3 linked regions of the Homo sapiens genome follow. The protein of the gene in region 2 purifies or fractionates together with the protein of the main gene of each other region. This does not show direct contact. Each region holds a gene or a part of one and is shown on either strand. Other genes may lie near its edges. The genes, in order: CILK1, DEPDC1 and SAPCD2.

The links.
Region 1: the proteins of DEPDC1 (region 2) and CILK1 purify together in Homo sapiens (affinity purification with mass spectrometry; 2 studies listed by BioGRID and IntAct, with this or other methods). This does not show direct contact.
Region 3: the proteins of DEPDC1 (region 2) and SAPCD2 purify together in Homo sapiens (affinity purification with mass spectrometry; 2 studies listed by BioGRID and IntAct, with this or other methods). This does not show direct contact.

The regions. Positions count from the first base shown.
Region 1 is NC_000006.12:53,014,760-53,025,095, reverse strand, and holds part of CILK1 (serine/threonine-protein kinase ICK), read left to right. Parts: intron 1-5,736; coding exon 5,737-5,869; intron 5,870-6,594; coding exon 6,595-6,766; intron 6,767-8,845; coding exon 8,846-9,013; intron 9,014-10,336.
Region 2 is NC_000001.11:68,478,343-68,488,678, forward strand, and holds part of DEPDC1 (DEP domain-containing protein 1A), read right to left. Parts: intron 10,163-10,336; coding exon 10,032-10,162; intron 8,643-10,031; coding exon 8,595-8,642; intron 5,749-8,594; coding exon 5,608-5,748; intron 5,363-5,607; exon of another isoform or gene 4,556-5,362; coding exon 3,704-4,555; intron 3,271-3,703; coding exon 3,098-3,270; intron 979-3,097; coding exon 802-978; exon of another isoform or gene 787-801; intron 1-786. UniProt on the Homo sapiens protein: May be involved in transcriptional regulation as a transcriptional corepressor.
Region 3 is NC_000009.12:137,065,915-137,076,185, reverse strand, and holds the start of SAPCD2 (suppressor APC domain-containing protein 2), read left to right. Parts: upstream 1-5,628; 5' UTR 5,629-5,725; coding exon 5,726-6,296; intron 6,297-6,392; coding exon of another isoform or gene 6,393-6,482; intron 6,483-9,811; coding exon 9,812-9,924; intron 9,925-10,271. UniProt on the Homo sapiens protein: Plays a role in planar mitotic spindle orientation in retinal progenitor cells (RPCs) and promotes the production of symmetric terminal divisions. Negatively regulates the mitotic apical cortex localization of GPSM2.

The sequences.
Region 1 (10,336 bases), on a different chromosome or scaffold from region 2:
TTTGGGAGGCTGAGACGGGTGAATCACTTGAGGCCAGGAGTTGGAGACCAGCTTGACCAGCATGGCAAAATCCTGTCTCTACTAAAAATACAAAAATTAGCCGGGCATGGTGGTGCAGGCCTGTAATCCCAGCTACTTGGGAGCCTGAGGCATGAGAATTGCTTGAACCCGGGAGGTGGAGGTTGCATTGAGCTAAGATGGTGCCACTTCACTCCAGCCTGGGCGACCAGCAAGACTCTGTCTTACAAAAAAAAAAAAAAAAGATTTAGCTATATGGATTGAAAGGGAGAGTAGAGCTGGACACTATAATAGCTATGACACATTTCTTGGTGGAATTGGGAGTAATTCATCTACCGCCCCCTGCCACCATGATTCAGTTTTCCCATCTGTGGAGTAAGAAAATGATGCTTGCCATTCCTTTTTTTCACTGGAATGTTTTGAACACTCTGAGTTTTTAGGAAGACAAACCATGGTCTCACAATTCATCTATTTTCAGAGGTCACAGGTGCGTTGACCAAAGATCACTGTAATCACTGCTTGTATCCTTACACATTCTTAAGCCAGTTCCAAAATGGAAACACACAATCAGGCCTTCTGCAAGCTGGAGGGTGCTCTGAAGAACAGAGGGTCCAAACACAATGACTCAGTTATGCTAAGTCTTAGAGATGTCACCCACTGTGGTGGGCATGAATAAATCTTTAATTAGGCTGATCATAAGCATCTAAATGTGTCCATATCAGAAATCTTTTCATTCATTTTAAAGGCCATTCTTGACTGATACTGAATGCTCTTTGCATTTGTTGAGTTGACAACCTCAAGTTTGGTTCTTATGTATAATTTTGGTTTATTTTACTATTAAGTTCACTAGGATATTTCAAGGAATTGTATGAGGAAGGCCATTAGGTGTGTACCAGTACAATGGCAGGATAAAGAATGAGCAGTGGAATATATATTCATAAATATTTCACAATATACATACAAACCCGTGTATGCATGTGCTATAAAATAGCAAACTTGCTGTGCCTGTCTCTGGTTTAACCCATGTCAAACTTTTTTGATCTCATCAATGCCTTGGATTGTGGAAAATAAAAGCAACCCCGTGGTGGGAAGGAAGTACTTCCTCCTCTCACTTATGCCCTCTTGAATGTATCTGATCACTTCTATACCTTCATCCCCTTCTGTATTTACTGGGTTCTAGGCTCTGTAATTACATTCACTTTGTCCATCTATGCCAGCTACTTCTCCTACAGATCCGCCATTATGCCATAGTATAATACTATCCATTTGGAACTTGACCCAGTATTAAGTACTGTTGTCTTTAGAATGATGAACAGAGAGGATTGTCCTATTACTAAAATATTGTTCCTTTCCATGATAATGGCAATTAGTGTATTTTCACATATAACCACATCACAATCACCCTCCCTTTGCTCTAGGGCAGTGACAGTCTTTGGAAAACAACCTTGACTAATAGATTTAGTCCTACTAGAGTTCCTGCCTTCATTCATTCATTCAACTAATACAACTCCCTCTGTCACAAGGACAACCAGCTCTGAGCCCTCATTGTCCCCTGCACTACTGGGTCATTGTTCTCTCTCAGTTCTCAGTGCTGTCTCATGGGTTTCCTCCCTCCCATCCTCCTCACAGCTCTGGTTTGCTCTCTAGTTGACCCTGGTGCTTGGCTCAGGTAGATGTGTTAACATTAAGCTGTTTAATGTTCCCTACAGACGAAAGTCCTTTGTTCAATCAGCAAGAGTATATTATGAGACCACAGTGCTCCTGCCACTGTGCCAGGCATTCATAAGAAATATAAATGTGGCCTCTGCCCTTAAAGTGCTTCTGTCTAATTCATAAAAAATGGTTAGCCAGGTGCGGTGGCTTACACCTGTAATCCCAGCACTTTGGGAGGCTGAGGTGGGTGGATCATGAGGTCAGGGGATCGAGACCACCCTGGCTAATATGGTGAAACCCCGCCTCTACTAAAAATACAAAAAATTAGCAGGGTGTGGTGGCAGGCGCCTGTAGTCCTAGCTACTCAGGAGGCTGAGGCAGGAGAATGGCGTGAACCCAGGAGGCAGAGCTGGCAGTGAGCTGAGATTGTGCCACTGCACTCTAGCCTGGGCAACAGAGCAAGACTCCGTCTCAAAAAAAAAAAAAATGGTTAACATACCTGAAGTTGATAGAGCTCAACTGGAGTTAGAGGGGAGGGCCTATTATGTCCATGAGGGCAAGAGTCATGTCCATTGCATTGTTTCTGAATCCTTAGAACCTAATCTGTTGCCTGGCATGGAGCAGATGCTCAGTGAAAATGTGTTGGTAGAATGAATGAATGAATGAATGAAGGCTACCATGTTAGAATGGCATAATGGAAGAAGCGAAACTCAAAACAGGTGTTGGAGGATGGCAAAAGTTGGGATTGATGTAGACAAAAAGGAGTAAAGGGCACATTATTAATGGAAATAAGTACAGTTACATATCACTTGATGACTGGATATGTTCTGAGAAATGTGTTGTTAGACAATTTTGTTGTTGTGCAAACATCATAGAGTACACTTACTTAGACACACCTAGATGGTATAGCCTATTACATAGCTGGACTATATGGTATAGCCTGTTGTTCCTAGACTGTAAGCCTCTACAGCATGTTACTGTACTGAATACTATAGGCAATTGTAACACAATGGTAAGTATTTGTGTATCTAAACATAGAAAAGGTACAGTAAAAATATAGTATAAAAAATTTTTTTAAAAATGGTACACCTGTATAGGGCACTTACTGTGAATGGAGCTTGCAGGAAATGGCTCTGGGTGAATCAGTGAGTGAGTATGAAGGTCTAGGACACTTTATAAACACTGTACACCAAGGATACACTAAATTTTTAAAATTTCTTTCTTCAATAATTAATCTTAGCTTGCTGAAACTTTTTATTTCATAAACTTATACTTTTTTTAACTTTTTGACTCTTTTATAATAACATTTGGCTTAACACATATGGCTATACAAAAATATTTTCTTTATATCCCTATTCTATAAGCTTTTACTGTTCTTAAATTATTATTATTACTTTTTTAACTTTTTTGCTAAAAACTAAGACACAAATACACACATTAGCCTAGGCCTACACAGGGTTAGGATCATGAGTATCATTGCCTTCCACCTCCACATCTTGTCCCACTGGAAGGTTTTGAGGTGCAATAATACGCAGGGAGCTGTCATCTCCCATGATAACAAAGCCTTCTAGGTACCTCCTGAAGGACCTGCCTCAGGCTGTTTTACAGTTAACTTTTTTTTTTTTTTTAGTAAGTAGAAGGAGTACAATTCTAAAATAATGATTAAAAGTATAGTATAGTGAATACTAGATAAGGATTTTTCAGCTTCATTATAATAAGACCACCATCATATATGCAGTCCATCATTAATTGAAACTTCGTTATGCAGTGCATGACTGTACAGTGAACTTACAAAGAATGAGGAGTTGCACCTGATTGGAGCACACTTTACATGTATTGATAAGTGTTGGAAAATAAGTTTCTCTCTTTAGGTAGAGTGAAAGGAGTTCAGCCCTGTTTAATATAAAAAGGAGTCATGGATGGTTTTTGTGGGTGAATGAGAGAGTGACAAGGGAAAGATAGTGTTTAAGTGGTCAGGATTATAGGAGAGAAGCTGGAGCAAGGAAGGTCTGCAAGAAAGTGGCAATGCAGGCATAGGCAGTGAGAAAGTAGAAAGAGACAGATATGAGATTTACCCCCCCAACCCCCCCGCGCCGCTCCAAAACGAAGTCTTGCTTTGTTGCCTGGGCTGGAGTGCAGTGGTGTGATCTCAGCTCACTGCAACCTCCACCTCGCAGGTTCAAGCAATTCTCCCACCTCAGCCTCCCGAGTAGCTGGAATTACAGGCATGTGCCACCACGCCCGGCTAATTTTTAAAATATTTTTAGTAGAGATGGTGTTTCACCATATTGGCCAGGCTGGTCTCGAACTCCTGACCTTCAAGTGATCCGCCCGCCTCGGCCTCCCAAAGTGTTGGGATTACAGGCGTGAGCCACCGCGCCTAGCTGATATGAGATGTTTTGATAGAAAATACGACACAATCTCATAACTGGGTAAGGATGGATCCAACATAACTGCAAGGTACCTAGAAATCTTATCCAAAGGTTAGGAAGGGGAGATGATTTGGGAGAGGACAAAAGTGGTTTTGGATAAGTTAACATAGGGATGATAGTGACATCCAGTTGCTGTCCAAATAGAGATTTATGTCTTCAGAAGGGTAGAGAAGGCACATTAGAAATGTAGACTTGAGCGTTGTCAACATACAGGTTGTCAAGGAATCGTGTAGATCTTCAGTGATGGCTATTAATTTCTCCCATAATGTGCTAGTTAGAATCCAGCTTTCACAACATTGATACAGATTGAGTATCTCTTACTTGAAATGCTTGGGTCCAGCAGTGTTTCTGAATTTGGATTTTTTCAGATTTTGGAATATTTACATTATATTTTACCAGTTGAACATCCCTAACCCAAAAATCCGAAATCCAAAATGCTGCAGTAAGCAATTTCTTTATGTGTCAGGTTGGTGCTCAAAAAGTTTCAGGTTTTGGAGCATCTCAGATTTTGAATTTTCAGAGTAGGGAATACTCAGCCTGTAATGATAGCAATGATAATGTGTAACAAATAATAGCATCAGCAGCAGCTGAGTTGTATTTCCAGTATTGGTGTCCCATTGAGATTTGGAGCCACATTAAATGATGTCTAGGTTGGTGATACTCTCAGGAAGTGGGAGGTTTGGGGTTTTCAGAGACATATATTGCAATTCACTGGGCGTTTGAGTGAGCTTGGAAGATTGCCATGTTGACTATCTCCTGCCTGTACCTCCAGAGCTCTGCTATAGCTGAGACAGGCTTCCTACGTAATGAGTTATCTTTGCCTTTCATGTGAGCTGCAAATGTACCATTGTACTTCCTCACTAGGCAAAGTAATAAGTACTTAACATTTAAACATATGTTGCAACATACACCACAATCTCAGATATGAGTAGGTCATATTCATAAATTATTTCTTAAACAAAAATTATAATTGTGTTTCTGCTGTGGTATAAACTCTCAATTCCCATCAGACAGTTATCTGGGCCGGGCATGGTGGCTCACACTTATAATCCCAATACTTTGGGAGGCTGAGGCAGGAGGATAGCTTGAAGCCAAGAGTTCAAGACAAGCCTGGGCAACAGAGCAAGACCCTATCTTTACAAAAACAAAAAAAAAAAAAACAAAAAAACTAGCCAGGCACCATGGTTTGTGCCAGTAGTCCCAGCTACTTGGAAGGCTGAGACAGGAGGATCACTTGAGCCCAGACTGCAGCGAACTATGATTGTGCCACTGCACTCCAACCTAGGCAATAGAATGAGATGCCGTCAGTGATATTTTTCCCTTGAGTGACAGTTTATTTTTGCAAAGTTATCTCAGCCTATAATCCAGTTTGATATTTTAAAAGAAATTTTCTCTCTAGTTAAAAAAAATTATGAAGAACACCTTTGAATGATTTGCAAAGGGAAATGAATGTAGTAATCCTATGAGAAGTTCGAAGGACTCTACATTATCTGTGGGATGAATGCATAAAGCCTTTGGTGCCATGCCAGACTACTTTTTAAATTATAACTATTTTGCAGAGAGCAATACAATTGCAAAGAATAATACGAAGCAAACTTGCATTTGGATTTCTTCTCCTCTACTGTCTCTATAGGCTTCTTTCATCGAGACTTAAAGCCTGAGAACCTCCTCTGCATGGGACCAGAACTTGTGAAAATTGCAGACTTTGGTTTGGCCCGAGAAATACGATCAAAACCTCCATATACAGATTATGTATCTACCAGATGGTGAATACCATTTTTCTCAAAATTATTTAATTGCACTTCTTTAAAAAGATATCATTATGCTAAGGATAATATTAAAGTCACAAATGTTAACTTTTCACTAAGAGAAACAGTGCAGTCTGAAACATATATTTATAGATATGTTGGTAATGTACAAGGTTAAAAATCTTGTGTTCTAAATCATGTTAAAAGAAAACCTATTATGCTTTTCTATAATGTAAATAAAATTTTATATATAGGCCTTCCTGAGGACAGCTTAACAAAAGAATTATGTAAAATATTCTGCAAAGACCTGTCTGAGAACCATCTAATTGCTATTGTGAAAACTTTGAGACACTGGGAATTTGATTTAAGCAGTTTGCCATGACCAAGTAGTCTACACACAAGTTGTAGGTTTTTTCCTCCCTCTTCCTTTCTCTCTTAGTTTTTCCCTTCCACTTTCTCTTTTCTCTCTTTTTTCCTAATTCTTACTTTCTCTGTGTTTCTCAAAGATGCCATAGAGAAGTCTCCTGTAGAGAAATGCTCAGTAGAAAATATTGTGAACTAGAGAAGCACTACTTGTCAACAGCAGCCCACGGCAGTTGCCAAGTTCTCACAATTCCATTACACCACAGTGAACTAGAGAGAAAATAGGAACATATACACCCCCTCACTGAGAACTGATTGTTATTTAATTTAATGTCTGAGTGGTGGAAGCAATAGCTAGCAGTTAACCTTTGTTCCTCCAGGTACAGGGCTCCAGAAGTACTCCTGAGGTCTACCAACTACAGCTCCCCCATTGACGTCTGGGCGGTGGGCTGCATCATGGCAGAAGTTTACACCCTCAGGCCACTCTTCCCTGGAGCCAGTGAAATTGACACAATATTCAAAATTTGCCAAGTGCTGGGGACACCAAAAAAGGTAATGATACAAAACAAAGGCCAGTGGGCCAAAGCCAACAGCTTCCCATGCTTCCTCCGCTCAGCCCTGTTCAGCACTGGCATGATTGAGCACCTGCCCATTCTAGGCTCTTTCTCTTGACCTCAGTCATTCTCCACTGCCCACGTTCTCAGATACGGTCGGCTTCTCTTCCTCCTCCTGTTCTTAAGTATGACATCTGTCATGGCTCCTTCTGCCTTCCTCTCTGTATCATCTCACCTCCCTTGCAGAACTTCTCAGTTCTCATTGCTACAACTCCTACGCCTGTTCAGAAGTCTCCTGAATGTAATCCTTAGCCGCTGCCTCCCTCCATTATTACTACACTCACATGTTTACAACGCTCTATGGGATTTTCTCCTGACTCCCTCACCATCACCTCAAACTCATCATTGCCTTTTGTTTAACACCCTACTAGCTTCCTTCTTTCATTCTCCATTTTCATTTGTGGTCTGATCATAATCCCAGAGCCCCCACCTTGAGGCTGAATTTCAGCTTTACCTTCTGTCTTTCTCTTGCTCCCCTTTCCCTTCATCTAAGCGGTTGGTGGGTAAATCCTGTTGAATATTGCCACATGGCTCTTGTTCCTTCAAGTCCACTGCTGCCATTACAGACTGGACCACAGTCACCCCCCTGTGTCTAATGTCATCTTCCCCATCTTTCTGCCTTGAAGTATTTTCACTCTGGCTTCTTGTTCAGTCTGTGGCCAGATTCAGCTTCCTAAAGAACAGCTCTGGTACTGACTTCCCCTCATAAAAGTATTGGTTGACTCCCCATTGCCCAGCCTCATAACTCCTATTCCTATCGCTCACTTCATACCTATACACCTAACAGCTGCATGCCCTGAAATTTCCCTGCTTCTGTGCTCTGCACATAACACCCTCTGCCTGAGTGATATCTGTCACATGGCCGTCAGTAATCCCCCTCCTCACTGTTTCTCTAATCTCCTCCCCATCTTCAGCTGTGTCCTATGTTATTAATATTATTATTTGCGTACATAGTTGTTTCCTAGACCATAAGCTCACTCAGGACAAGGATTTGCTGTATGTTTATTTTCCCAGGTCCCAGCACCATTGCTGGTGCAAACTAGATCCTCAAAAAAATTTTTTAATCATTTGAATGAATTATTAATGCCACCTCTTCAAGAAAGTTTCCTGAGTCCAATGCTGGAATCTTTCTCCTCTGCATATCTGTACCTGCACATCTCTTGCAGCTTTTGTCAGTTTTTACTCTGCATTATACCATTTTTAAATAAATGCTCTTTTCTCTTTTAAGAACAGTAATACTCTTAAGCGCAGGATTTATATTGGATCATTTTTGGATCTCCAACAACACTAAGCATATAGTAGGCATTCCAGAACTGTCAAGTGAATGAACGATAAAAGCTATATGTATTGCCACTTGGCTTTAAAAAGGAGTGGAGGAACAATTACCTTAGGCTGTATGTTATAAAATAGTAGAGTGTTAGAACTAGAAGGAACCTTAAAGACCATTTCTTTAGCATTTTCCATCATTCCCTCCAGCATTTAGTGTCCCATAGAAATGATGCATGAAAAAGTGGAAAGCTTGAGACTGGGTGAAACACCTTTCTTTACTGCTGGTTTTCTCCACATGTATACTTTCAATCACCAAGTTGAAGATACTGTAGGTAGAGTTTCACAAATTTATTTGTCCAGGAACAAAATGTTTTGTTTTATTTTGTTTTCCCCAAAAGAATATCTCATTGGCAGTTTTCAGAACCTCTGTCTCATGGAACACAGTTGGGGAAATATTAATTTGTTTCAATCCCAAAATCTCAAGAGAATCTCTTATGTAAAGATAATTAAGTTGGCAAATCCAGTGTCTTTTCCACTATTCCCCCAGATTTCATGGTCTTGGTGGTCTCTCTATTAATCTAAATCTATGTCTCATTCCATACAGTGCCACAGTAGTGAATGTGGGTGGTTAATGAATGTGGGTGGGTAATGACATGGTTGCCTTTCCATTTGGGGCACACATGCCAGAATACAAACTTATATCACAGCAATTGGCTGAGCAAGATTTTCTATCTTTTCCTTCTTTCAGACTGACTGGCCTGAAGGCTATCAACTTTCAAGTGCAATGAACTTCCGTTGGCCACAGTGTGTACCCAATAACTTAAAGACCTTGATTCCCAATGCTAGCAGTGAAGCAGTCCAGCTCCTGAGAGACATGCTTCAGTGGGATCCCAAGAAACGACCAACAGCTAGTCAGGTTTTCTTCCATTTTCTTGTTATAACGTTCATATCTAACTCTGAATAATTTCTATGAATTGCACAGGAAATATTTAGTATTTAGTATTATGGGTGAGAAATAGTACAGAATACCACTAATGGTGTACTATATAAGGTATGAGAACTTAAAATAGTTTGAAACTTACTGGGTATAAAGTAGTTACAATGTAAACAATATAGTTGCTTTGAAAATTGGCATGTAATTCACATGATATATCACCATTTATATGGAAATGGAAATAAACATATATTTATCTGTCTTTGGAGAATGTTTTCAAATCTATTCTCTATGAGTTACAATTATATAGTAGTTTGTTTATAAGCCGGTACTGGTTGTTGAAAGGCAACTTCATATTATGTAAAAGTCCAACTGACTCATAACCTGAAGAGATTGACAGATGAGATAGACCTAGGATAGTAACTGCACTTAGTATTTCATAGCACTTTACAGTGTGCAAATGCTTGAATATATTTTATATGATTTTTAATCCAATAAAGACTCCATGAGACAGGCATTATTGTTTTCAATTCTGTGAGTGAGAAAACTCAATCTTGGAAAGTTTAAGCAATTTGCTCTAATCACTCATCCATTAATTAGTTCAAATAGTGCAACTAACTACAATTCAACCAACTGACCGGAAGTATGAAGTCAGGTCCACTGGTTTCATAGCTCCTTTCCCAATCCATCCTCCCATGGGCCACTTAGACTTAAATAATGAAATATACCCAAAAGAGGTATGGTAACGCTGGGGGCTCTTATCACTCACAGGCATCTTGCAAGCCTCCTTTTGTGGTAGTTACATCTGGCCCCTTCTCAACTTGTCTCACTGACAATTACATTGCTCAGAGGATCATATAAGTGACCAATTCTAATCAGAGAAGATGTTCAGAAGAAGAGTGATGAGGATATTTGAAGAAAAGTGCCAATGTGGTGGTAGAATTTGTGATAGCTGGGGAGATGATAGTTGGAGGAATAATTAAGGAGTGTAGAAAAGCAATTTTCTGAAAGCTCAAGGAAAAAAGAACTACAATTTGGTGCCGTAAGACTTTGGATGGCTCAAGGGCTGGAAAGCTCTCAGGAATGCAGTTCTGGTGGTGAAATTCACAAATGGCTGCAGGGCAGAAAAGAAGCTTTTGGATGAACCCAGTTTTTTAACAGATGCATGTAAGAAATGGAAAGAAAAAGATTCTGTAACAAGGAAGCAAGAGAGGAATGTATGCTTTTAAGAATAGTGTGAAAAGCTAAAAATACCCCCCAAATCAGTTAAGACTTGCAAAAATGTCTGTGACTACAGAGAAGGCT
Region 2 (10,336 bases):
TCTAAGTGTTATTCTAATTCATCTTAAGACTTTAATGTTCTGACAGTGCAGGTAGTAGATGATCAGCATATTTACTGAAATGAAATATTTTTAGTTTTCATGTATTTTTTTTTTTTTTGAGGCCTAGGGACATAGGCAGAGCTTCTAACATCTTCTGATAAGAGAAAGAAATTCTAGGAGATAGTTATAATTATAAGCCAGGGCAATATTAGAATGGTATGTATGGGAAAAACATAAACATGTGTTGGGCAGCCAAAGACAGAATACAGTAGATGTCTGTTATTTTGGCTGCTCAGTATTCCTTCTCTCCTTCTTTTAATAGTTCCTTCCCATTTTACCCCTCTACCTTCACCTTTTGTGAAGAATAAATTCTCCTTTGTGTAGAACCAATCAGAGTAAGGCCCTATCTCCATCCTACTCACTCTTAACAACCTAAACGATGCATATTTAACCTCAACTATGCTAAGAGTCTACATCCAGAGCTTTTAAATTGGAGACGGAGGAATGGCTCTTTTTCCTTTGAATTGCAAATGTAAGGCTCTAACTCATGAACTTCAACTAGCCACATTCCTCATCATGTGAAGGAGCCATTGTCAAACACAGGATCAACACAGAAATAAGAGATGGAGGGATGGAAAGAGTCATATAGCTATTTGAGTCCCAGATTCTGTCTACATTCCTGACTTTTAGAGGTTGTTTATGGGAGCTGATAAAGTCTCCCTTTTTGATTAAGCTATTTTGAGATGAGTTTGCCACTTGCAACTGACTATTGCAGAGAATTTTAAGACTCACAATACTTACATGTCCCTTTTTTAAGTAGTCAAGATGTTTTTCCACTGCAGTCTGTAAGTAAGAGGGTACTTGAAGAATTTCCTGATGATGATCCATTAAGAAAGAAACTAATCTTCCAGCAAGAAGCTCATCAAGATCCACTTCTTCAGCACAGCATAACACACATCGAGAAAAGGTATGTATCATCTAGAAAAATATTAAAAGATGTGAATTTAAAAAGCTAAGGTTGCATACAAACTAGAATATCGGTAATTTCCAGGTAGCATTATGTGAAGTATTGGGAAAAAGTGGTAAGCAGCCCTCAGTTTAAAAATGAGGACAACGATTTATACAGTTAGAAATGTAAGAATTTGATTATACATAAATCCTTTTTAAAGTTTTTCCATGGCTGAGCATGGTGGTTCATGCCTGTAATCTAAGCACTTTGGGAGGCTGAGGTGAGAGGCTCACTTGAGGCAAGGAGTTCGAAGCCAGCCTAGGCAACATAGTGAAACCCTATACCTATGAAGAAATAAAAAACTAGCCAGGCATGATGGTGCATGACTGTGGTTCCAGCTACTTGGGAGAGTGAGGCAGAAGGATTTTTTGAGCCCAGGAATTCCAGGGTGCAGTGAGCTATGATCACACCACTGTACTCTAGCCTGGGAAACAGAGCGTGATCCTGTGTAACCAGAAAAAAAAAAAAAAAGTATATCCTTAATGTAATTCCCAAGAATTATAAAAGGCTTTGGTTTTTCTACAATTTTGTCACAATTTTATCAGTAAACACCATAGGTTCTATTAATACCACATATATATGTTGCTTAAGCTTAAAGATTGTCAGAGAACAATAACTAATTACATTAAATGAATCCCACAGAAAAACACAAACCAGGAGAATGTGTAACATATAGAACACTTCTATTCATAAGTGGTTGCAAAGCTGATGCCATTTAGCTTTTGAAATGCTGGAAAATAGTTTTTAAAAATGTTTATTCTGTCAGTCTTTAGACAGCAATTTAAAACACACATTTTTCAATTCCATCTTATGGGATCTTCAAATCCTGGGATAAAATTGATTACTCTCACTTATTACTCTCGTTACTTTCACTTATATCTATGCAACCCTCTAACTGTACCACACACACACACACACACACACACACACACCCCTCATTCTAAAATACTTAGAAATCAGAATTGTTTTAAATATTTCACACATAGTAGATGATCAGAATATTTATAGAATTGATACATTTTTAGTTTTATTCCTACACATCACTCGGGGTTTCCTGTCTCCTTCCATGGCTCAGACCTCAGCCTTTTGCTCTTTCTTCACACTCTTAGCCTTGTAGAGCTCATCTACTCTCATAGCTTCAAGTACTATCCCTATGTAAATGACCAAATCAATTTGCATTCTCCCCTGATCTTTCTTCACCTGGCTCATATTTCCAACATTCTGTTGGACAAATTTCAATTTCTCTTGGAGGTCCTATGACTTCAAATCTTAAAAGTGCAAAACCAAAATTATCACCTTCCCAGTCATGTCTCTGAAAACATCTTCCTCTATAAACTTCCTAGCTTTTTAATAGTGCTATAATTACTCAAGAATAATTCTTCTTCTTTATATTAGGTCTGTCATTGTTAAAGAACTATCTTTAATAACGCGTGGAAGAAAGCATAACTCCGGATTCCTTGCTATAAGAACCTCTTGTAAATTGAAGTTGCATTTTGAGGAAGTGGTGACTTAAAAAAAAAGAAAGAGATTAAAGATACTATTTCAAGAGTTCATTTCCAATCAATTGTCTGCATATAAATGCCCTTATCCTCATTTTCACAAGGAGCCTAAGGCTGTTTGGCAATAGTGCTTCCCAACTTCTTGTCCACGATGACCTACTTTTCCATTACTATATTCTCTGAAACACTGACTTACTGTATTAAGTTCCATTAGTTCTCTGCGTCCACAGTTATAGTCTCCTTAGGCTTTCAACAGTACCTACATTTCTTCTTCCTTATCCACCAAACAGAATTGGCACAAGGCAACATAACGTGGTCTGACTGGTCAATCACTATGAAGTGATTCAGGATGAATGAGCAGGCAAAGTCCTTAGCCAGGATTAACATCAGCATGTGAAAGTATAACAGAGTGTGCACAAAAGATTAATACACCAAAATTCTGCTGCTAGGAAAGGTTAAAGAGCCTTTCCAACCTAAGAATCTAGCACTTTAAGACTAAGACATCACTTGAGTAGTACTTTTACGTAGTTTGGTTTTGTTATTTTGGTTTATGAATCAGACTTATTCTTTCTATAAGAAATCAACTTACCAGTGACCTCGTACCCATTGCATCATGAAGTTTGGGCATATCAACATTTTGACTCATTCGGGAAATCATACGCATTAAAAGTTGAAGCTTTCTACGATTTGGTGGGGGAAGTAACAAACAACATAACTGTAGAGCATCGATGGCAACCCTCTCTAAATGAGGTTGCAGCAAGCCTAGAATACAAAAATACCCCCCCAAAAATCATCAATGACACTAGTTGCTTTCATACTACCAGTATATACAGCTATATAAAGAAGGTAAAATAATATCTTAGTATTTCATCTTTTAACTATTTCTAGAAATTACGTTCCTCTAAAGCATGGTAAGATTCTCATTATTTTCTTTACAACTTATTTCTAAGTATTAAAATTCTTCACTTATTACAAATAAAGTGACTCAGAATAAATGAAATTGCAAAAAAGAAAATAAGTTCCTTAGGTAAACAGAATAAATCTTGGTTATGTCACAGACAAAAGTCTTTTTAAATAATTCCTCTTGGAGGAAAAAAAATTAAGCAACTTCAAGGAAGAAAAGCCAGGTAAGCAAAACACAGAGTTAGTAAACACTCAAAGTTAATATTGCATGCATTGAAAGCAACAGCCTTACTTTGTGTGCCAGTCAACATAGAAGAAGCTGGAAGTAAAGAATTTTCTGAAAGTTCTATTGTACTTTTGCAGAGTCTTTTATTGATTGTGGCACTAGACTCTCCGAGTTCACTTTCCATAGCTGTTTGCACACTTGTGCTGCCTTGTCCAACATTTGGTTTCATGATAATTTCAGCCACTGGTGTATTGATATAACTATTCCTTCTTGTACTACTTCTTAAAAGCAAACTCTGAGACCTACAAAGCTGTTTTGACTTGCATTTCCCATTACACAACTCCTCTTGGTCTTGAACAGTCAAAGTAGAGGTTCTCTTAAAACCAGCACTGAATGGCTTTTGAATATTTTCCTCTGAATGAAGATTCAACAGGAATTCCTGTTTGGGCTTAGACTCTAAAAACAGTTTATTATTTTGTCCTTCTATGTTCGGAAAAGATTGATGAAAGACACTGGATGCCTCTTTACTTGAATTCCCTGGCACATCTACAATTCCTTCCAAAGAACAGCACCTTGGTTTGCTGTTAGAGGATAGATCATGCATATTACTTAACCCTATTAAATTATGACAACTTCCTCCCATTATGTCATTAGCACTCACTCTTCTGTTTCTTAAATTAACTAGCTGCATTTTCTTAGCACATCTTTCTTGAAATCCTGGATTGCTTATCTGTAGTCTCTCAGTAGAATCTGATTCTTCTTTGTTTTTTTCTCTATGAAGCAGACTGAGAAGAAGGCACTCAGTTGATTTGAAGGAATTCAAATTGTTTAAGTGAAGGAATTTTGAAGACTGTGGATCATCTTGAATTTTATGTATCCCACTGGATCTATCTGAAACTGTGATGTAGCCACAAACAACTACCAGGAAATGAAACAAAAATTAAGATGCAACTGTATGACAGTGGACAAAAATAAAACAAAAACAATAGTAAAGTTAAAAAATAAAGCATTACTATAGTATATATTGTTAGTATAGTATACACAGTAGTTGCTTAATTCAGAAGCCACTTAAATAGGACACATGCAACATTCGGTTACAAACGTGCAAGACAGATGAGTGGTTTTCCCATTTGTAATATAACTTTAAAAAATTATTTCAACAGCCTAATTAAATGGATTGAGCCAGAATACATTTAAAAAATCTGTTCTCAGTCTGCAAGTACTAGAAACCTCATAAATATAAGATAATTGTGGTATAATAAAATACATATATTTGATCTTTGTCCTTGGTACCTGGTATGGAGCTCCTAAAATCCTTGAAATTTCCTGAATGATAGAAGTCTTTAGTTACTCATAACAAGCCTATTTCAGCGTATCTGAGTTCATGCTAAGGTAACTGAGGGCCGGCCATGGTTTGAATTTTCATCACCAACTACAACCTTGTGGGAGGAGAAAGGGGCTAGAGATTGAGTTCAATTGACAACAGTGACCAATGATTTGGTCAGTCATGCCTTGGTAATTAAACTTCAATTAAAACTCTAAAACATGCAGGCTGAGGGAGTTTTCTAGGTTAGTGAACACATGGATGTGCTGGGATCACGGCATGACCAGAAAGGGTAGAGAAACTCTGTGCCACCCCCACCCTCATACCGTGCTCTGTGTAACTCTTCCATTTGGCTATTCTTGAGGTCTAGCTTTTATAATAAACTAATAGTCATAGTTAAAGTGCTTTTCTGAGTTCTGTGAATCATTGTAGTGAATTATTGAGTCTGGTAGGGGGTTGAGGGAAGTCCCGAATTGGTAGTTGGCTGGGCGGAAGTATGAGTAACCTCGGAACCTTATTTCACTGAATTTTAAAATAATTTGTAGGCTGCCACCTTTATATTTACCTATGGTTTTAGATCTTCTAAATTATAAGAAAGTTGAAAACTTTAACAAAATGAACTAAAATCAGTAAAATCTATACATACCCAAAATGTTTACAAATAATTCGTAATATTCAAAAGTAAGTAGAGGTTCAGGGAGATCTAGAAAATAATCTGCGATTGTTCTGAATACATCTCGTTCAAATCCAACATAAGTTGGATTATTCATATCATTGCTTCTTGGCCCTAAGAAGTAGAAGGCAAGAGAAAAAGGTAAAGTATATTTTAATTTAAATACAATTTTTAAACATAAAAAGTATAAAATCTGTATTTCATGAAGGAGCTAGGTTTAACAACAAATTCTGCCACAGTTCAAAAATTTAAAGGGTGTATTTCATTCTTCCTCATTATCTTTCCACTGGAAGCAGTCAATTGCTAGTATTTTGTTTAACATTTGTATACCTGAAAAATCATACATAAAGCAAAATTTTAATATCATTTTAAAAGCATTAGGGAAGCTTAGTTTAATAAGATTTTATTGTAATTCATTTTGTAAAGGAAAGAATATTTGGACAACACAAATAATTCCTTCAAATTGTCTTTTTGTAAATTTACATGTTCATGAATATATTTTGTCTGACATGAAGCATAGCCTTAATGAATTTAAATAATATCTTTACATTGTTGTTTCTTAAGCTTGACACAACTATTGAAATAATCATACCTACTCATTTGTGTTTTCCTCAAAAATAAGATCTGATCTCATTTTATAGATAAGAAAACTGAGGCTGAGAGTACCTTGCCCAAGATGAAAAAGACTCTGGTAGCAAAGTTTGAATTAGAAGTTAGAGCAGTGTAAAATAAGCACAAGGCCCAGGACTTTTAAAGCTACAACAACATTTAAAGTGTGGTTCATAGATTATATCACAGAATCATCCAATGTGCCTATTAAAAATACAAAGTCCTCTATGGAGACCATAATCCATGAAGGCGGGGCCAGAAATTTACTGACCTAGAAATGTTTGCTTCTGGTTCACTGAGTGTTTTCCAAACACTAACCTGAGAATCTTCACTATAGTAATCTTCTGGAGGCATATATATATATATATATTTTTTAAAGATTCCTGACCTACAGAATCTCTGGAGAGTCTCTTTAGTGACTGTGGTATGCATCTAGGTTTTAGAGCCATTATACTATCTTTCAAGTTAAAATGTTTCTCTTCCCAAGTCCAAATAATATTTCTTACTTCTCTGTTTCCAAACTTTTGTATGGACACACAAATGTGAGCACACACTGAAAAAGAATTAAAGAAAACAATTCACACACACACACACACACACACACACTCTTAACAACAGAGCAAAATAGATATTTTTCTAAGGACATAAGAAATAGTATGTGGAATAAAAGATTTGATAATCATTAGAAAGTTCTCTAAGACAGAAAATACATGTTTACAGGAATTAAAAATATTAAAAATATAGAATTTATAGAGAATCTAGGTTTGAGCTCTAGCTCATTTGCACTAAAAGAAGATACTCTAAGCTTTGGCTTTCTCTGTTGGAAAAATTGGGATGGTATACTGATTACTAATTCCTACATCTCACAGAATTACTCTGGGGGATCGAATAACAAGTAAAGTAAGTCTTAACACTGCCTCTGGCTAAATACATTGTTGCTAATTTGGAATCCAGTAAGTTATATAATTGGTATCGTTTAGGTATTACATAGACTGAAACGAGAAGGAAGACAGAATCCCTGAAGACCAGATGTCAGAGAAATCCCTGTCAGTATGCCTATCTGAATTCCTAACCATGAGCAAAGGAATGAAAGAGAGGAATAGCTAACTATACCTGGAAAGTAGAAAGACAAATTCAAGTCTTAAGTTCATAATAAAGATTTTAATCTTAATTTGATAAAATGTTTCTGTAAATATATTTAATTTATTGCTATTTATTCAATGTCATTTTATCATATTGACACCCAGTGGACAACAAAGGAATATAAAGTTACCCTGAACATTAATAAAACCCTATTAGCATTTAGAAAATGCTAATTTTGTATGAACTAGAAAATTATACTTGTAACTATTAAAACATAATTTAGCTTTTGATGATTTAGCTTATATCTTTGTACATTTAAAAAATTAACTTTGAAAGCAATTAGGATTTTGTACTCATACTAGGGTTTTATGTTACAAAAATCAATTATCACTGATCACTACGAAAAGCTTGATCAATTAAATGCTAAAAAAATTTCTGGATTAGTGACTGATAAGGTTTGGATCTGTCCTCACCCAAATCTCATGCCAAATTGGTAATCCCCGGTGTTGGAGGTGGGGCCTGGTGGGAGGTGATTGAATCATGGGGGTGTATTTCCCCTTTGGTGCTGTTCTTGTGATACTGAGTGAGTTATCACAAGATCTGGTTGTTTAAAAGTGCGTACCACCTCTGCACACAACCTTCCTCCTGCTCCAGCCATGTAAGACATGCCTGCTTCCCCTCCACCTTCTGCCATGACTGTAAGTTGTAAGTTTCCTGAGGCCTCCTCAGCCATGTTTCCTATACAACCTGTGGAACCATGAGCCAATTAAACCTCTTTGCTTTATAAATTACCCAGTCTCAAGTATTTCTTTACAGCAGCACGAGAACAAACTAATACAATGACAGATAATCTTTTTTTTTCATAACATAAAGTCACATTAATATATCTAGTATTCTATGCTTCTACACTATAGAAATACCAAGGAGTTCAAGCCATTTGAACTCTGAGCCTCACTGAGGCAATTAGTGTGGATTTCACTTAAAAAATCCTTTGAGATCCTCTAGGCTATGACTTTATAATATATGTGAACTAAACCATAAATAATATGCTTGAATTAAAAAATCGCCACCTTTCTAAACAGAAAAAATTAAGGGCTCCATAATGTAATAAATTCCACTAGACTTTCATTTATAAATAAAGAGAAATGATATACTTTAATTTTATCAGGACTTTATTAAATTTCCTTGGTTCTTGTTAAATACTATCAATATAACACACACACACACACACACACACACACACACACACACACATATATTTAACTTACAATTTGCTAGGCACTTCATGGCAGATAATACCCAGTGAGGGAGGTCATCTACACAAAAAGAAAAATATTACTAAGTAAACCATACATTTTTTATGATAGTATATTTTAAAATATCACACTTACGTGCAATTATATATATGTATATACACATACACATACATGTTACATTTGTATATGTGTGTATTACCAGGATTAAAAAGTATTATATGTTTAATAAGACACAGGATCAAGTCAATATTTTAAAATAGAAAAAGTCTGAAAAAATTATGGATTCTGAGTTTGATTCATATTACACATAACAATTAAATACTGCCAAATTGAGGATTATTTTGAGGGAGTGTTTAGATATAAACTCCACGTTCATTTTTATCTACTACCACTATCTTTTCTTCATCCTTGTTTCTATTCTGCCTATTGCTATGCTATTTGAATATTACTGATTTGGGTGAGACCTAAGATTGAAATGAACTGTATCTCACTATTATGCTGCTTTTATAGTGAAGTTTGCTTAAAATCTTTCGAGTGCCACTAAATAAAATATGTTCCATAGAAATCTAGCATTTTTTTTACACAGGGTTACAAAGAATAGAAATCTTAAATGAGGGAATATACTGTTAACCATATTATTTTAGGTAATGGAAGAAGGGACTGGTCTACAGCCACATACATATGCCACATAGCAAACTCATCAGTTTTAACATTTACCTTTTGCTCCTACAATTAAAAACTCAAAGTTCTTGCCCATAAAAAGAAAACCAAAGTAGCATATGTCAGTTAATTCCACAGACAGAAACTTATCATAAAAACATCAGCTACGATTTTGAGAGATTTATGGATACCTTTCTCATAATCTAAGTTTTCTAATACATCTATCTAGCTTGAATTATTTCCCTGATTTTTGTATCTAAATCTGAAATCAATCAACTATATAAATATATAAAACAAAAAAGCCAGTCCCTTTAGAATCCTCATCTTGAAAGTCTGAGCTTATTTTGTTGTGTTATTACAGTTTTGTATATATGTTTGACTCCTGTTAATTTGTACATAACTACTCATGTAAGCCTCATGAGAGTATGGACCATTTCTATCTTACTTATCATTAATCTTTAGCACAATCTCTGACGTGTTGGAGGCCCTCAACAAAAATGTGCTTAATCAAAACTTTTCTTATATTTGTATACCTTTTGGATGCTTAACTTTGTCATTTTTTTAAATACCATGCATGAATTTATCTTAGCAGACAAAATATTTCTTATACTAGCACGAATAATACTCACTTAAAAATTATTCCACTGTTATTACTAAAGAACTTATGATAGCCCCTCTGATGCTCCATGAAAGTATTCTACTTTCAATATTTGGGTCTCTCTTTACACTACTATAGCTGCAACCTTGTTGGCAAGTTTTTAAAAGTCCAATTATTTTATTAATACCAACCTGATTTGTTTTGTAGTATAACTACTCCACGTTTACTTGTATTGGCCATGTTGTACATTATATATTGGGGAATTACTTGTTTTGGATTTATGACTTCTTCTAGGGATGGCACACCTAAAATGGTTTGCAGGCTAAATAGAAGAAAGAATATTAACTTTTTTTCTTCATAAATAGATTATACATATGAATATGACTAGTAAACAAAGCCATCAGAATATTTTATTTTTTTAACCAAATTTCTAAGACTTATATTTAGTATCCCCTTTCAAATACATTTATCTCAATAATCTTAAAAGGATTCCAAT
Region 3 (10,271 bases), on a different chromosome or scaffold from region 2:
CCCCGTCTCCACTAAAAATACAAAAATCAGCCAGGTGTGGTGGCGTGTACCTGTAGTCCCAGCTACTTGGGAGGATGAGGCACGAGAATCACTTGAACCCGGGAGGCGGAGGTTACAGTGAGCCAAGATCGCACCACTGCACTCCAGCCTGGGTGACAGAGCGAAACTCTGTCTCAAAAAAAAAAAAAAAAAAAAAACCGGGCGCAGTGGCTCACTTCTGTAATCCCAGCACTTTGGGAGGCCAAGGCGGGCGGATCACCTGAGGTCTGGGGTTTGAGACCAGCCTGACTAACATGGAGAAACCCTGTCTCTACTAAAAATAGATACAAATATTAAATATAAATATAAATATATAAGCATGGTGTTGCATGCTTATAATCCCAGCTACTCCAGAGGCTGAGGCAGGAGAATCGCTTGAACCTGGGAGGCGGAGGTTGCCATGAGCCAAGATCGCGCCATTGCACTCCAGCCTGGGCAACAAGGGCGAAGCTCTGTCTCAAAAAACAAACAAACAAACCGAAAAAGAAAAACAAATCATGCTGTTACAGGAAAGAGGTTCCAGACCTCAAGAGAGGGTTCTTGGATCTTGCGCAAGAAAGAATTCAGGGCAAGCCCATACAGTAAAGCAAAAGCAAGTTATCAGGAAAGTAAAGGAATAAAGAATGGTTTCTCTACAGACAGAGCAGCCCTGAGGGCTGCTGGTTGCCCATTGTTATGTTTTTTTGGATGACATGCTAAACAAGGAGTGGATAATTCATCCCTCCCCTTTGTAGACCATATAGGGGAACTTCCTGACGTTGCAGTGGCATCTGTAAACCGTCATGGTGCTGGTGGGAGTGTAGCGGCAAGGACAACCAGAGGTCACTGTCGTTGCCATCTTGGTTTTGGTGGGTTTTGGCCGGCTTCTTTATCGGAACCTCTTTTATCAGCAAGGTCTTTGTGACCTGTATCTTGTGCCGACCTCCTGTGTCATCCTGACTTGGAATCCTTTAACCATCCAGAAATGCAGCTCAGTAGGCCCCAGCCTTATTTTACCCAGCTCCCATTCAAGATGGAGTTGCTCTGGTTCACACACCTCTGACAGTGATCTAGGACCCAAAATGAAAACTAACATCTCCCTCATGCTGCCCCGTGGACCCCTCAGGCAGTTGTGTTTCCTTGCAGTTGGGTTCTGCCCCCACCTCCACACACATGCCCTCACTGAGTTTGGGAGGGGGCTTCACCCCTGGGGCAAGGCCCACATGCACTCTTCTGGACCTGCATGGAGTTGCTTTTCGGGCCTGCCTCAGGGTCTCTGCACTTCCTGTTCCTCCCTCCTGGACCGCTTGTCCCCAGAGAAACGTGTGGCTGGGGACGCATTTGGTCAGGCCTCAGCTCCCCAGGCCACGCCCACTCGGTGAGCACCTTCCCATCCTCCGTGCCAGGCTGCCTTTCTGCATTCTTGGCTACCTGACTCCCCTGTGAGAAGCGAACCCCACAAAGGCGGGGAGTTGCTGTTTTTGTTTTGTTTTGTTTTTTGTTTTGAGACCGTGTCTCATTCTGTCGCCCAGGCTGGAGTGCAGTGGTGCAATCTCGGCTCACTGTAACCTCCGCCTCCCGGGTTCAAGTGATTCTCCTGCCTCAGCCTCCTGAGTAGCTGGGATTACAGGCGCCCGCCACCACACACAGCTAATTTTTTGTATTTTTAGTAGCGATGGTTGGCCAGGCTGGTCTTGAACTCCTGACCCCATGATTTGCCCGCCTCGGCCTCCCAAAGTGTTGGGATTACAGGCATGAGCCACCGTGCCCAGCCCAGGCAGGGCATTGTTTAGGCCAGTGGTCTGCCCCCATCACCTCAGGTAAATGCAGCACACAGTAGGCACTCAATCAATGTTTGTTGATTGAACAAACGAGTGTTGAACCCCAGCCCACACCGTGACTGGGCAACAGCAAATGTTCAGGGAGTACCTGCTGCATGAATGAATTAATGAATGGCCTGTTCTGCTCCAGTGGTTTGTGGTGGTTGAACATCGTTTAGGTGAACGTTGGAGTTGGAGGGGAGGCTCGCGGAATCCGGTGAGCAGAGCAGGCTTCCCGCCCCAGGCCAGAGTCCATGGGAACCCTTATCACCCCTGCAGGGCTGGGCAGCAGAGGAGGCACATGTCTCTTGGAGGCAGGTGTCAGGACATGAACTGTTGGCCCTGTAGGTCAGGGTGATTCCAAATCCCACCTCAAGGTGTGGGTTGGGCTGTAATAGAAGATTTGGAAAATCAAGGTTTGTACAGCCAGAGGCACTTGCGGCACCAGAAGGGGAGGAGCGACCCTGCCCAGACCGACAGAGCCTACGGATGGGTGGGAGTGCTGGCAAGGCTGAGGTGGGCAGCAACCTCCTGGACCACCTTGTGGCCAGGCAGTTGTCTTCACAAGAGGCCCAGGGGAGCAAGGCCCTAAGGCTCAGAGGCCAGGAGTGCAGACGGGGAGCCCTGGGAGGCTCAGGGGCTGGGTGGCTGTTGCCAGTTCTTCACTTGGTGCCCACTGCTGGGGATACATCAGGGGACAGAGGGGCCGGTCTTCCTGCCACCTCTGCCCAGAGTGGTCCAGGCTTACACAGTGAGAACACAATTACAGCTAAGATGGGGCCTCCAAAAGTACAGGGACAGCATGGGACCCCCAGGGGTGACACAGCACTAAAACCTGAAGGATTGGGAAACTATCAGGCCAGCCGGAAAGTGGAGTGAAGGAGGAAGTGGTCAGAGCTCAGGACAGGAAGGACACAGGACCACATCTTAGCTCCACGCCCAAAGCCAGGCACAGCCTCCAGTCTTTTTTTTTTTTTTTGAGACGGAGTCTCGCTCTGTCGCCCAGGCTGGAGTGCAGTGGTGCCATCTCGGCTCACTGCAAGCTCCGCCTCCTGGATTCACGCCATTCTCCTGCCTCAGCCTCCCGAATAGATGGGACTACAGACGCCCGCCACCACGCCCGGCTCATTTTTTGTGTGTGTGTGTGTTTTTAGTAGAGACGGGGTTTCACCATGTTAGCCAGGATGGTCTCGATCTCCAGACCTCGTGATCCTCCCGCCTTGGCCTCCCAAAGTGCTGGGATTACAGGCATGAGCCACCGTGCCCAGCCTTTTTTTTTTTTTTTTTTTGAGATGGAGTTTTGCTCTTCTTGACCAGGCTAGAGTGCAATGGCGCGATCTTGGCTCACCGCAACCTCCACCTCCGGGGTTCAAGCTATTCTCCTGCCTCAGCCTCCCGAGTAGCTGGGATTACAGGCATGGGCCACCATGCCCGGCTAATTTCGTATTTTTAGTAGAGACGGGATTTCTCCATGTTGGTCAGGCTGGTCTCGAACTCCTGACCTCAGGTGATCCGCCCGCCTTGGCCTCCCAAAGTGCTGGGATTACAGGCGTGAGCCACCGTGCCCGGCCTCCAGTCTTTTTCATACCTTCCTCCAATACCCAGCCAGGGGCCACAGAGAAGCCCACAGACCAAGGGCCAGCTGGGGCCGCCTCCCCCAAGGCTCTGGATGGTATGAAAAGCCCTTGTTTCATCTGCACGGTGGGTTCAGTTCCATGCGGGGCCATGGCTGGCCTGGCCTGGACACTGCTGGCCACGCTGTCCTGAGCTGCAGCAGCCTTGCTCACTGCTGGCCACCGACTCCACATCCACACTGGCCTCCCCTGCCATACCACTGAGCTGTTCCCAGCCCTTCCCCATCCCTTAGGCCTCAGCCTGGCTTGGTGCCCACTCAAGGATGGTGTTTCCCATATGATTTCACTGGATACGGCTCCCCAGTGCCATTCACAGAGCACCCACTGTGGGCCAGGCCAATGCCAGGCCTAGAAGGAGCCCTGTCCTGCTTGCAAATAGCCAGGGCCCCCTGGGCCAGGAGAAAGCTGTCCCCTGTGTTTTATCTAACTAGGCTTCAGGGGGAAGGGGACTGGGGCCAGAGCAGAGTTCTGAAGGATGTAGTGCGGTCAGCCTGGAGCAGAGGGGAAGGGCCTTCCTGGTAGAAGAGCCACCAGGCACAGGGGCCTGGAAGTGAGGGAGTGCAGGGACCCCAGGCCTGGCACTGGCGGTGAGGGGTGTGCTGGAAGCAGGGTAGGTGTGGGGATGGGGGGGCGGGGGCTTGCGTGTTGTGCTGGTTTGTTTTGTTTTGTTTTGTTTTTGAGACAAGATCTCGCTCTGTCACCCAGGATGGAGAGCAGTGGCTCAATCACAGCTCACTGCAGCCTCAACCTCTTGGGTTCAAGGGATCCTCCCACCTCAGCCTCCCAAATACCTGGGACCACAGGCATGCACCACCACGCCTGGCTAATTTTTTAAACTTTTTGTAGAAATAGGGTTGCCTTATGTTGCCCAGGCTGGTCTTGAACTCCCCAGCTCAAGTGATCCTCCCGCCTCGGCCTCGTGCTGGGTTTTTGAGCAGACCAGCCATTAAAGGGGAAGCTGGCTTACAGGACCAAGCTCTGATGGGCTGCTCCAGGCTCAGAGCTTCTTATGTCCTTCCAGCATTCCCTACGATGAAGGAGTCCCACTTAGAGTGAGTGACCCAGAAGAGAAGTGGACCCAGGATACTCCCTGGCCTGGGAAGATGCCTCTACAGCTTGAGACACAGGCACCAGTGGCTCAGGCCTGAGGACAGAGACCCAGGTAGGTATGCCAGCTGAGGCCTGCCCAGGAGGGAGGGTGGGAGACCCGCAGAGGGCCAAGGCAAGTCTCGGATTGGGGGCCTGTCTGGGGAGGGTGTTTGCACCCTGAACACCTCCCTGGAACCTAGAGGGTACTACTGGCCAGCCCTGAGATGGGCTCCCAGGGCTAGAACCCAGGCTAAGGCCTGGTCTCACCTCCCATGTGGACAGACCAAATGAAGACAGAGTGACCAGATCCCAGCTGGAAACACAGCAGAGGCAGGGGGACAGGGCTGCGGGAGCCAGGAGAGCAGCTGGAGGAGGTGTCCAGCCAGGGGAAGGAGGAGAGGAGAGCAAGAGGCAGAGGGAGCTGGTCACTAGATGGGGATCTGGGGACACAGGAGAAAGTGGCTTTGTTCTGCAGCAGGCAGGCCAGGCCAGACTGTCCCGAGGGACCAGAGGAGGAGCCAGCAGCAGTGGGGACAGAAAGGCCTCTGTGAGTGGGAAGCGCCCAGCTGGCTGGAGCCTACGATCCTCTTGGGGCCCTCCTGGTGGAAGAGAAGGGGGCCGCAGGGTCACCTGTGCTTGCGGCCAGGGAACTAGAGGGGAAAAGTGGGATCTTTGGAGGGGGTGCCCCCCCCCATTCTTACCCCACGAGGCTACCTGGAGACAGGTTTTTTTGTAGGGTGCCAGGCCCCGCCCCTTGGAGAGGTGGCCGGGGCAGCCAGCCACAGCTGGATCCGAGAAAGCGCCTGGCCGCGGCAGGAGGTTTGGTGGGGCTGGGGCGGGGCAGAAAGGAAGGTCTGCGAGGCCAGAGTGGAGCAGGAGCTGGGGGATCCGGTTCCGCCTGCCCAGGGCCTCCGCGCGCCTCCCAGGGCCACTCGGCAAGAAAAAAAAAAAAAAAATCAAACCTCCTCTCAGCCTATCAGAGAGCAGATGGGACGGGCTCGGCCAATGGCCGCGGCGCATGTTAATGAGGGCTGACGCCGCGAGGAGGGCCCCATTCAAAAGTAGTCGCTATTGTCGCCGTGGGCTGAGCTCGCCGGGCCGGCCCCTCCGTGGGGCCGCGCTGGGACGCACGCGGGTGGACGAGGGGACCGATCCCGGGCGCCCATGGCCGGGGCCGCCATGGCCGAGCGGGGCCGCGTGCCTCCCCCCGCACCCGCGCCCAGCACGGAGGGGCTGCCGCGCGCCTTCCTGCAGAGCCTGCGCACCCTGTTCGACATCCTGGACGACCGGCGGCGCGGCTGCGTGCACCTGCGCGAGATCGAGTCCCGCTGGCAGGGCACCGACGCGCGGGAGCTGCCCCGCGGGGTGCTGGAGGGCTTGCGCCAGGTGGCCCCGGCCAGCGGCTACCTGACCTTCGAGCGCTTCGTGGCCGGCCTGCGCACCTCCCTGCTGAGCGCCGACGGCGGCCCCCGGGACCCCACGCGCGCCCCGGCCCGGCCCGGGGATCAGCCGCCGCCGCCGCCGCAGCGCCTGGTGTTCGCTCCGGCCGACGAGCCGCGGACGGTCCTGGAGAGGAAGCCCCTGCCCCTGGGCGTGCGCGCCCCTCTGGCCGGTCCCAGCGCCGCCGCCCGCAGCCCGGAGCAGCTGTGCGCCCCGGCTGAGGCGGCGCCCTGCCCCGCGGAGCCCGAGCGGTCCCAGAGCGCGGCGCTGGAACCGAGCTCCAGCGCGGACGCAGGTGAGTTCCGGACGGCCCCCGGGCACCCTCGTAGCTCTCCCGGGCCCGGGCCAGAAACCGCAGTCCCACAGCTGCTGCCCGTGCATTTCCCACAAGGGACGGGACCGGGGAGCGGCTCTTCGTGGACTCCGGATCCTGGAGGGCGCCTCGGCGGGTCTGGAGGGAAAGGGCTTCATGCTTGTCGCGGTGAGCCCAGGGGCTTGCTTAGGGAGGCAAGCCAGACCCTCTCCTGCCACAGCATAAGGCCACCAGGGCCGGGGGGTGGCAGGTGACTCAGAAAACCCACCGGGAGCCCAACCTGTACCAAGCCTGAGCTTGGGCTCTCCATCTCCAATACCCTTTCCGCACCTGGGGACACCTGGGCCCTCAGCCTCCTGTCTGTGGCTGCTCAGGCAGAAGTGCTTCCTTCTCAAAGAAAGGGTCCCCCTTCTCAGTGTGACAGCTTAGCCAGGGGGGCTGGGCCCACTGACCCCACTGAGGCCTAGGCAGGCGGGGGCTGCTGCTGGTGGCCCAAGAGGACCTGGCCCTGTTGCCAAGATGGGCAGGGGCGTGGGTGGATCTCCTGCACCCCAGTGGGGCTGTACTATGGCAGATGCCATGGAGGGACATAGGCCGTAGTCCCTGGGGATGGCTGGCACACTCCTCTCCTGCCTTCCGGTCCAGTTGGCAGTGATGGGAGATTGCTGAATGGTCCCCTGTCTCCCCCAACCCAGTGCCTGCCTTGGGAACAGGACCTGTATTATGGCTGGGGTTGGGGGGCCAAGCTCCCAGAGGGGCCCCAGGCCCCACAGCCCATTCGGCCTGTGCACCCGTTCTGCCAGGGGAGGCCTGCCCACCGGTGGCTCCTGCCGGTCCCTGTGCTGCCTGCTGCTCTGCCACCCTCCCTGTACTGCTCCCCCACCTCAGCCATATTCTCCAGCCCTACAGCTGGTGTTTGGAGCCACGGCGGCCCTGGCCTCCCTGGTGATCTGATCCAGCAGCCACACCAGGCTGGGGGACCCCTAGTTCTATGGTGAGGGAACCTTCAGAGGGTATCTGGCTCCAAATGCAGGGTCAGCGTCATCCATGTGGCCATGCAGTTTGAAATCAGCCATGGGATTGCACGCTGTGGCCGGGCCTGGGGTTTGGAGGCCTAAGCCTGTGGTCCACCCCTGCTCTGCTCTGATGCCCCATGCGGCACTGGCTCACGTACCACATCTCCCTGAAGGCCACATGGCTAGGGCTGTAGCTGTCACCCTCTCACAGGCAAACGGAGGGCCAGACAAATGGCGTGACATATTTGATTGACACAGCTGGCTTTTGGGGTGTCAAATCTGGAGCTCTGAGGTCACCCCAACTCCCAGAAAGCCTGCCAACACACACAGCCTTCCAAGCCCCCAGCCCAGATGTTCAGGGCCTCTTTCCTTGTTCCCACCTGGGACTGCGTGTTTGCTCCAGGCTGGCTGTGGCCCTGGAGGTGTGGCCTGCTGGCTCAGGGCCCTGGAGGGGCAGAGCCACCACCCCCACCTAGAGGCCATCTAGCTCATCACCCAGCACGCTGCTATCTGGGGACCCAGGAGCTGCTCTATGGACTCAACTGTACAGACCGGGCCCAGGTGTCCTGGGACTTCCTCTATGGCCTCCCTCTGTCTGTACCCTCTCTGCTCCCACCTCCTGAAGGGCTGTGTGCTCTTCCACTGTCTTGCCCCAGAGCTGCCAGCCGCTCAGCACCGCAGGCTGGAGTGCGAATTCGGGCCTGCCTGGAGCCAGGCTCTCTGCCGTGCCTACCTGGGCCCAATTCTTGCATCACTCCCTGACTCCTGTGGCCAGGTGCCAGGGGCATGGCCTCTAAGGATGTGCCTGGTGCTGGGGCTACAGCTGGAGGCCGAAGGAGGATGCCTTCCTCCACACCTGTACCCACTTCTGTAGCCTGGGGAGGTGCACCTACTCCCTCACCAGGAAGCTGGGCCGGAGTGGCACCAACGCGATACTCTTGGCTGCCCCCAGGGGGAGCCCTCAAACAAACTTCAGAGCAGGGGTCTGTGAGCACCAGGACGTGCCTGACTTGTCAGTTGGGTGCACCGCCTGGCGTATCACACACGCGGGACTTTTTTTTTTTTTTTTTTTTTTTTTTTTGAGATGGAGTCTTGCTCTGTCGCCCAGGCTGGAGTGCAGTGGCGCGAATCTCAGCTCACTGCAACCTCCGCCTCCTGGGTTCAAGCGATCCTCCTGCTTCAGCCTCCCGAGTAGCTGGGATTACAGGTGCATGCCACCACGCCCTGCTAATTTTTGTATTTTTAGTAGAGACAGGGTTTCACCATGTTGGCTAGGCTGGTCTTGAACTCCTGACCTCAACTGATCCCCCCCCGCCCCAGCTTCCCAAAGTGCTGGGATTACAGGTGTGAGCCACCGTGCCCGGCAAGGGATCTTTTTTTTTTTTGAGACAAAGTTTTGCTGTGTTGCCCAGCCTGGAGTGCAGTGGCGCAATCTGGGCTCAGTGGAACCTCTGCCTCCCAGGCTCAAGCAATCCTCCTGCCTCAGGCTCCTGAGTAGCCGGGACCACAGGTGCATGCCACTGCACCAGGCTAATTTTTGTGTTTCTAATAGAAATGGGGTATTGCCGGCCGGGCACAGTGGCTCACGCCTGTAATTCCAGCACTTTGGGAGGCTGAGGTGGGTGGATCACCTGAGGTCAGGAGTTCAGGACCAGCCTGGTCAACATGGTGAAACCTCATCTCTACTAAAAAATACAAAAAGTAGCTGGGCATGGTAGTGGGTGTCTGTAATCCCAGCTACTCGGGAGGCTGAGACCGGAGAATCACTTGAACCTGGGAGGCGGAGGTTGCAGTGAGCCAAGATCATACCATTGCACTCCAGCCTGGGCAACAGGAACAAAACAACGTCTCAAGAAAAAAAGGAAGAAATGGGGTTTTGCCATGTTGCCCAGGCTGGTCTCAAACTCCTGAGCTCAAGCGATCCACCCGCCTTGGTCCCCAAAAGTGCTGGGATTACAGGCGTGAGCCACTGTGCCCGGCCATGCGGGACTAACTTTCTATCAGAGTCACCATCCTGGGAAAAGTTAGGTTTCCGTCATTCACACCCACATCTCCTGCTGCCTTGCAGGACCCCGTGCAGATGGGAGAGGCGTAGTCAGGACCAGAACCCCCCCGCCCACTCCTCCCTTACCCAGCTGCCTTGGAGACCCAGGGTGTGCCTGCCATGTTCTGGGCACTGGGTGTGCAGAAGAGAGCTGGATAAGGCCTCTGGCCCCAGAGAGCTCACGGACCGATGAGGGGGCAGGGTGTGTGTTTGAGCAAACATGCGGGCTTGGCGGCACAGCCCTCCCCAAGCCAGTGTGAGGAGCTGGAAAGGGGAGAGGGACCAAACTCCAGCCTGGCACAGAGGCTACACGTGGGCCATGCCAGGCTGGTGCCCGAGACCTCGAGGGTGGGCTGAGATGTGGAGGCCGCTGCACCTCAGCAGAGCCTGGCCAGGCAGGTCTGGAGGTGAGCCAGGCCCATGCCTCTCCATAACAGGTGCAGTGGCGTGCAGGGCCCTGGAGGCGGACTCAGGGGATGCCCGGCGGGCTCCCCGTGCCCGAGGGGAACGTCGGAGGCACACCATCGCCAGCGGCGTGGACTGCGGCCTGGTGAGCAGGGACTGGGGCTCTGTGGGGCTCTCCATCTTGCCTGGAGGCTGGAGGCCGGGATGGGAGCAGGGGGGCCTTGAGCCTGGGGGAGTCCATGGCGGAAGTACAGTCAGCTCTGGACATCTCTCTCCCTACCTGGGCTTGACTCCCCTGGAGGGATGGCCCAGGGTCAGGCAGAGGGAGGTCAAGAGGTCGTTTAGGGCAGCTATGGTGGCTGCCCAGCCCGCCTCACGAGGTTGCTGCTGCAAGCCAGTCTGGCTTCCCAGCTGTGTGCTCACCACAGGCAGACTTCGGGAGGGTGGGCTCAGCTGAAGGGTCCGTCACCCCTCCCCCAGGGAAGCCTGAGT